2 separate regions of the Homo sapiens genome follow, and region 2 is linked to region 1. The links come from fine-mapping of genetic effects on plasma protein levels. A gene starts in region 1. The other region holds a variant in brackets. All regions are shown on one strand. Distances are between the middles of the regions.

Region 1 (4,000 bases):
AGTTTTCCAATTGAAGTATAATCAAGTAAACACACAGATCTTAAATATTTGGCTTGATGGCTTTTGAAAATTGCATGTAGCCAAGTAACAACCACCTAAAATAGAATATAAACTATTTCGACACCCCTACCCCAAGTTTCCTAATGCAAGGGAGCCCAGCCACCAGGAAACATCATTAAAAACCCTTCTCCTTGTCCTCTCTCAATATCAGGCACTCAGTTTGTAGCTGTTGCTGAAAATATTCTCGTCTCAATTTTAACCTTTTCTCAAATTTTCTTTAACTGATGCCCGACCTCTTTGGTTTCTCTCTCCTTTTCCCCTTCTACTTCAGATCTTACTATACAGAACGACTTGGCTCCTCCTGACTTCATTAGTTTTCTTTCTTCTTCATTCATCAAGGAGATTCTCCACAATAAAGCGGAACCTGGGAATTATCCAGAGAACAAGAATCTCCTTCCCCTTAGAAGGACAAATAGGGAAGGACCACTGTTATTTCACATTAGTGGCAGCACACTCTTCTTATCATGGAACACAATGTTCATTAGGATCGTAATTTAAGAATCATCTGCCTGACAGATGGAGATTTCTCAAGCTGATGTGTCTCAGGGAATTTTAGACCTCTGGATATAAACCAAGATCACCCAAATGAGAGCAAGCGGAGGTTATTTATTCAGAGCTTGCTATAGGAAGGGAGGCAGCCATTAACAGTTGTGTTTGGCAGAGACTCAAAGTCAAAGTCAGACAGAGGAGTGGGAAAGCTTTATAATAGAAAAAAGGAAAGGCTTCAGGTGTGCTCCAACGGATTGTTGGTATGGGGAGGATGGAAGGAAACTAACTAGAAGTGAGGTGTCCATGTGATTGGTTAGAGAAATATGTTTGGATTTCTCTGGTTGGCCTTAAGTTGGGCCAACTGCTATAGAGGTTGTAGGTTTGGCTTTCTAGACCTGTTGCTACAGATGTGTGGGTCAGAGTTCTGTTTTCACATATGGCCTGGCTATTGTCCATTTATATATCCTTTTTTTTTTTTTTAGAGCAAATGATGTAGAAGAGAACTAGGGAATCAAAGACAACCCCCCTTCCGAACCCTCTCAAGCAACAACATCAGCACTGGCCCATTATCTTATCCTACTCAAGTTTTTTTTTCTTCTTCGAGTCCCAAGTTGTTAATTTCAAATCAATTTTCAAATTCCTGAAACAGATCTAGAAACCTGTCTAGACAGATCCAAGACATATTAAGAATGGATGAGGAGGACTTTGTATTGATCTGACGTAAGAGAAGATAGAGAATTCAAGGATAGCTCTAAGGTCCTAACTGGAGCTATAGGAGCTTGCAAGAGAGGATGTTGAGCTCAGTTTGTAGGGAATTAAAGTTGTAAGTGCCTCCTGGAAGACATTCTTTGTAATTATACATCTGAAAACTGGAACATCATTTTAGAGAGGTGGAGACTGAGAACAGAGAGTAGGTGTTTGTCCAAAGTTTATATGCCAAGGCTGTGAGTGAAACAGGAGCTTCGATCTTTTGGTGTTCCATCTACAACATACACAAAACAAAAGATGGAGAATGAGAAGTCCAGGCAACCCCGGAAACAACAAGTTTCTGTCAAAAGCAATAATGAACTGTTTTGTGCCATTAACAAAAACGTTATGAAGACAGAAACCATCTCCCAAAGATTTCATAACAGAGCCACATAAGTGGAAAGTAAATGATTAAAGAATGTGGGTCTCAGAGTTCCATTCAAATCATGATACTTTATCTTCTATTTACAAAGATAAAAGTACACCAGAAAATGGTTAATGTTTAAGCGCTTTCATATTTGGCTCTGTCTTTTTAGCAGACGAAAACCACTTTGGTAGTGCCAGTGTGACTCATCCACAATGATTTCTCCAGTGCTCATCTTGTTCTCGAGTTTTCTCTGCCATGTTGCTATTGCAGGACGGAGTAAGTACTTTTTGCTTTTGAAAAAATAATTAATATATCCAACCCCTTCGTATATGTCAGGGATCAATAATGATAAGTAGGCCGGGCGTGCTTGCTCACATCTGTAATCTCAGCACTTTGGGAGGCCAAGGCAGGTGGATCACCTGAGGTCAGGAGTTCGAGACCAGTCTGGCCAACATGGTGAAACCCCGTCTTTATGAAAAATACAAAAATTAGCTGGGCATCATGGCCGAGGTGGGCGAATCAGTTGAGGTCAGGAATTCGAGCCCAGCCTGGGCAACATAGTGAAACCCTGTCTTTACTAAAAACACAAAAATTAGCCGGGCGTGATGGCAGGCGCCTGTAATCCCAGCCACTCGGGAGGCTGAGGCAGGAGAATTGCTTGAACCTGGGAGGCAGAGGTTGCAGTGAGCCGAGGTCCCCCCATTGCACTCCAGTCTGGGCAACAAGAGCAAAACTCAGTCAACAATAATAATAATAAGAAGAAGAATAATTAAATTCTTTTTTTTTTTTTTTGAGACAGAGTCTCGCTCTGTCGCCAGGCTGAAGTGCAGTGGTGCGATCTCGGCTCACTGCAAGCTCCGCCTCCTGGGTTCACTCCATTCTCCTGCTTCAGCTTCCCGAGTAGCTGGGACCACAGGCGCCCGCCACCACACCCGGCTAATTTTTTGTATTTTTAGTAGAGACGGGGTTTCACCGTGTTAGCCAGGTTGGTCTCTATCTCCTGACCTCGTGATCCACCCGCCTCAGCCTCCCAAAGTGCTGGGATTACAGGTGTGAGCAACTGCGCCCAGCTGATAACTAAATTCTCTTTAGAGTGGATGCTGGAGGGACTGGATTGATACTGATTCTTTAATATTGCCATGTGTAAAGCTCCTCTGTAAGATACGTAGCCAATTTAAGCCTCAGCATACTGACCTGTAAAATGGGGATAATTATAATACCTCCTTCAAATGGTTGTTGAGGGGATTAGATGAGATAGTGTATATGAGGTATTTGGCATGCAACTTGGTATGCTTATAATTGGTAACAGTACACACATTTTTCATTTGTGGGCTTAGCTGAACTTTAAAATGCAAATAGAGATTTGTTAACCATCTGCTTTGTGCCCTCTTTCAGCCTGTCCCAAGCCAGATGATTTACCATTTTCCACAGTGGTCCCGTTAAAAACATTCTATGAGCCAGGAGAAGAGATTACGTATTCCTGCAAGCCGGGCTATGTGTCCCGAGGAGGGATGAGAAAGTTTATCTGCCCTCTCACAGGACTGTGGCCCATCAACACTCTGAAATGTACACGTAAGTCAGTACCTTCTCTCACATTCTCTTCCCTCATTTGGATTCTGGGTATTTTGGAGGAATAAGCTACCTCGTCATGCTCAGAGTGCAGAGGGCCAGTAGATGCTGCAGAAAGCCAGGTTGGAGAGAAATGAGAAGGTCTTGGGGAGTTCTCTCTGTGCAAAGAGAGTAAGGGTAATAGGTGCTATTGATAGAAGAGGAGAAGATCATAGCCTGAAACTAGGGTAGGTTTAAAAATGAGATCTGGTGTGGCAAAAGGAGAAAGAAACACTACAGAAGTTAAAAGAACAGTGGAGAGGCTTTGAAATGTCAACTGATGCCAAAGAGACATTTGGAAAAACAAAATTTGGGGAATCATCATATCTTTGGACTTCACCTGAAAATGAAAGCGGACTTAATAGTTACTGAAATGAATACAAATTTCATCTACATTATGTATATATTATATTATAATGAAATACAAGAAAAGAGGTCAAATTAAAATAATAATATAACGTAAAATATATCAATCTCACTATGGCTTTACTGTAAATGGTTGCTTTTATTTATTTCTTAGAACATGGTTCTATGATATCATGCTAGCATTATTCTTTACAGTCAAGTATTATGCAATCAACCAGATTGAATTTATGGTACATTTAATTATATGTAGAAGTTAAGCAGTAAAAATAGATGTATGGATCTGGTGATTTTGGTTATATGAACAGGACCTTTGTCAAAGTTATGCATGTTCATGCAAGTTGATTTTACTATGCTTTTTTGCTT
Region 2 (4,000 bases), 15 kb after region 1:
ACCTCCCAGGTTCGAGTGATTACAGATGTGAGCCACCATGCCCACCCCTTTTTGTGCTCTGTCTAGCCAAGGCTCTTCTCATTGCAAAAACCAACCACACATTCGAGTGAGTTCAAGGAAATTGGGGATATTATAAGGAGGCAACAGGCAAGTCGATCATGTGGGCATTGAAGATGAAGACATGAAATACAACTGATACTCCTGAAGATTGGAACTGAAAGGCAGGAACTATTCCTACTTTTTCCGTATCTCAATGGTCTCTCCCATTTCCGTCTCTCTGCTTATTCATCTTGAACATGGCTTGATATACACCAGACCCTCTCAGTTACAGGATTCATCACCAACTGGCATCTTTCCTGGAGACACTGGTTCCTTTTGAGTTAGGTGTCTACCCTTGATCCCATCAGTGTCATGCATAAGTAAAGAACAACAACAGCCTAGCATTAGAACTCTGCTCAGGTCACTATGGGCTGGACAGTTTAAGCAGAAAGAGGAACTCTGGGGCAGCAGGCAAGATGACAAATAACTAGCATCTTAGGTTACAGTTCCCTAGAAGCAGAGCCTGAGACGGGGATTCGAGTACAGTTGATTTAGTGAATGTCTCAGGAGAAGAAAGAGTGAGGCAGATTTGCGAGGGTAAGGCACCGGTTCTCAAACTTCGCTGTGGATCAGCAACACCTGGAAGGCTTGTTTTAACACAGGATTTTTGAGCTCCACTCTTAGAGTTTCTGATTTGGTAGATCTGGGATGGGGCCTGACAATTTGCATTTATGCCAGGTTCCCTGGTGATGCTAATGCTGCCGAGCCAGGGAGAAATGTGGTCTCTGCTAAAATGAGGTTCAGTTTGATCCCACTGGGAGCTCTGGAGTGTGAATTCCACCCTTGAGTTAATCCCACTAAGAGCCAAGGGGACCTGCTTTTTATATTCCCTCATCAGTCAGTCTTTGGCTTTGAGCTGCTCCCTTCCCTGACCCTGGGGGTGGTTTGCATAAACTCCTGGGAGAGGTGGCTTCCCTATGGCTGAAGGCAATTTTTCAGAGTATTTATGAGCTGTTATCAGCCAACACTCACAATGGCTGGTGGATAGATGCACCTGCTTAATGAATGCAATCTGAGAGGGCAGAGTAGGCTTACATGAAATGTCAATATCTGTTAGTTGCTTTTTTTTTTTTTTTTCACTGAAATGGAGGCTCTGATGCTTCTGTTCTGACCTTCTGTGGCTACTGTAGGGGAAGAGAAGGCCATCTTGGAAGCTATGAATAATGGTTCTATTGACAGAGAACTGCAATTAGCAATCATATTACCATTACTTACTATATATATTCTTGGATTTTTCTTGCCTTGACCAATTTGTGTAGGTGTACTCATCTACTGTTTCAAATGCTATACTCTCTTTCAGAAAGACTTCCTGAACTCTTAAGTCCTGATTACAAGTATTCTCTCTTTCAGCATCTTGTAAAGTACCTGTGAAAAAAGCCACTGTGGTGTACCAAGGAGAGAGAGTAAAGATTCAGGAAAAATTTAAGAATGGAATGCTACATGGTGATAAAGTTTCTTTCTTCTGCAAAAATAAGGAAAAGAAGTGTAGCTATACAGAGGATGCTCAGTGTATAGATGGCACTATCGAAGTCCCCAAA[T/G]GCTTCAAGGGTAAGTCTGCATTGGAACGTTTAGCTAGGACTCCCACTTGCCCGTCATCATAATCAGAGCCTTTGTTCTATAATGATTGTCAAAAACCAGATGAGGCCAGGTGCGGTGGGTCACGCCTGTAATCCCAGCACTTTGGGAGGCTGAGGCGGGTGGATCACCTGAGGTCACGAGTTTGAGAGCAGCCTGGCCAAAAAGGTGAAAGTCTGTCTCTACTAAAAATACAAAAATTAATTGCTGTGGTGCCGGGTGCCTGTAATCGCAGCTACTTGGGAGGCTGAGGCAGGAGCATCACTTGAACCTGGGAGGTGGAGGTTGCAGTGAGCCGAGATCGCGCCATTGCACTCCAGCCTGGGCAACAGAGCGAAACTCCGTCTCAAAACAAAAACAAACAAAACACAGATGAATTTGGCCACTGGGTTTTTAAAAAGAGGGGTGAGAGGGAGAAACAATGATATGAAGCAGTGAGCTGCAGATGGCGTCCCCACTTGCATTTTCCTTTCCAATTTTTTTTTTTTTTGAGACAAGGTCTCACTGTCACCCAGGCTGAAGTGCAGTGTTGCGATCACATCTCATTGCAGCCTCTACTTTCTGGGCTCAAGTGACCCTTTCACCTCAGCCTTCTGAGTAGCTGAGATTACATGCACGCACCACCATGTCCAGCTATTTTTTATATTTTTATTAGAGAAGAGATTATGCCATGTTGCCAAGGCTGGTTTTGAACCCTTGGACTCAAGCAATCCACCTGTCTCAGTCTCCCAAAGTGCCAGGATTACAGGCATGAGCTACGCGCCCAGCCTCTTTTCTAAGTCTTTTCTGTAAAACTCAGGGTTGTGGTTATATTCAATGAATGCTGAGGTGAATGATGCCATCTTGTATAATTCCAAGTTGAGCTTGAATAATAATGAACCAAATATTGAATAATAAAATATCTACCTCATCTTGGTCCCACATTATAGAGAACTCACCCCAAGTGACAAAACAACTCATGGCAATGATAATTGGTCTAAAGATCTAACATTTCCCCTTTCTCAAGCAATTCGTAGAGTTTGAAAAGTATCCATTAGAGCAAAGTATCCATTAGAGCAAAATATTTTAAGGAGAATGATACCAGGTTTGTGTGAGATAAAGAAGTGTGTAATGGCCAGCGTTTAGAGCTGCTAACCTTTTAAGGTTTCAGATTTAGGGTTGAAATGTCTCTGATGCCAGAAAGTAAGAACCAGCCAGAGGCTGAAGCTGTCCTTGGCTCTAGGTTTAGAAATCTTTCAAAAACATTGACAATCTTGTTTTAGCAGGTGGGAGAGGACAGTAGGGAGCAGACAAAGCTAAGAAGAGAGGAGTCTGAGAAGTGTCCAGCTAGTGGGAGAGAAGGGAATGATAACTGATTAAAAATACCCACCTCATGGGGTTGGTTTGATTATTAGAAATATGCATGACATGGAGGAATATAATTTTAATTGTAAATAGTTACAAATGCACTGAATAAATTGCCATTATTCAAAAGACAGCAGAGCCCTGGTGAGATGTTAAATACAAAACATGACAAAATACAATAAGCTTAAATAAAAATCAGTAGAAAAAATGTGAGAAAAGAATAATTGAAAAAAGTCTTAGCTTTGTTGATATATTTCTTCAGGATCTTCTCCCTTATGGTCTTTGGACAGATGCAGTACTGTAAAGGGCCGATACTGTTTTTTCCCCTTTAATCTTGACTGTTATAGAACAGTCTTCACTGTATATAGAACCTTTAATTTTATCTCTTGAAAATGAGGATCTTGGCCAGGCGCAGTGGCTCACACTTGTAATCCCAGCACTTTGGGAGGCCAAGGCGGGCGGATCACTTGAGGTCAGGAGGCCAGCCTGGCCAACATGGTGAAACCCAGTCTCTACTAAAAATACAAAGATTAGCCAGGCATGGTGGCACGTGCCTGTAGTCCCAGCTACTCGGGAGGCTGAGACAGGAGAATCACTTGAACCTGGGAGGTAGAGGTTGCAGTGAGCTGAGATTGTGCCACTGCACTCCAACCTGGGCAACAGGGCGAGACTCTGTCTTAAAAAAAGGAAAAAGAAAAAGAAAAAGAAAATGAGGGTCTTATCATTTCCCTAATGTTTTCTCCCATCACTTAAACCTCACACTAAATGGTTTCATTCACATAATCACATGTATTCTATATACTCGTAAAATGTATTTGGTTTGGCTTAGCTATTTACCACATTTAAGAAATGATTGTTTCTCTTAGAATGTTTATCTTTTTCTCCCCCAACAGAACACAGTTCTCTGGCTTTTTGGAAAACTGATGCATCCGATGTAAAGCCATGCTAAGGTGGTTTTCAGATTCCACACAAAATGTCACAC

Alleles and levels. Alleles are on the strand shown, and positions count from the first base shown. The strength of an association depends on the size of the effect and on how common the allele is.
For the plasma level of the protein whose gene starts at base 1,840 in region 1, allele T in region 2 goes with a higher level than allele G (strong association).

What was found. PIP is the chance, under the fine-mapping model, that this variant and not a neighbour inherited with it causes the effect. The UK Biobank Pharma Proteomics Project read protein levels with antibody pairs (Olink). The fine-mapping took linkage between variants from a reference panel, not from the people measured, so its PIPs are less certain.
Region 2: its variant is fine-mapped to the plasma level of the APOH protein (UK Biobank, PIP above 0.99). The variant lies in the coding sequence of APOH. If it changes the protein, the assay may bind it differently, which can mimic a change of level.

What each region holds. Positions count from the first base shown.
Region 1 is chr17:66,227,255-66,231,254 of GRCh38, reverse strand. APOH (apolipoprotein H) reads left to right here and starts at 1,840. Exons shown (of 8, transcript NM_000042.3): 1 at 1,840-1,939; 2 at 3,059-3,235. The coding sequence starts at 1,876.
Region 2 is chr17:66,212,100-66,216,099 of GRCh38, reverse strand. It overlaps APOH (apolipoprotein H), which reads left to right. Exons shown (of 8, transcript NM_000042.3): 7 at 1,450-1,647; 8 at 3,912-4,000. The coding sequence ends at 3,967. Among named protein-coding and RNA genes, the nearest start is that of APOH, 15 kb to the left of the region's middle. The variant T/G (reference allele first, on the strand shown) is at 1,638.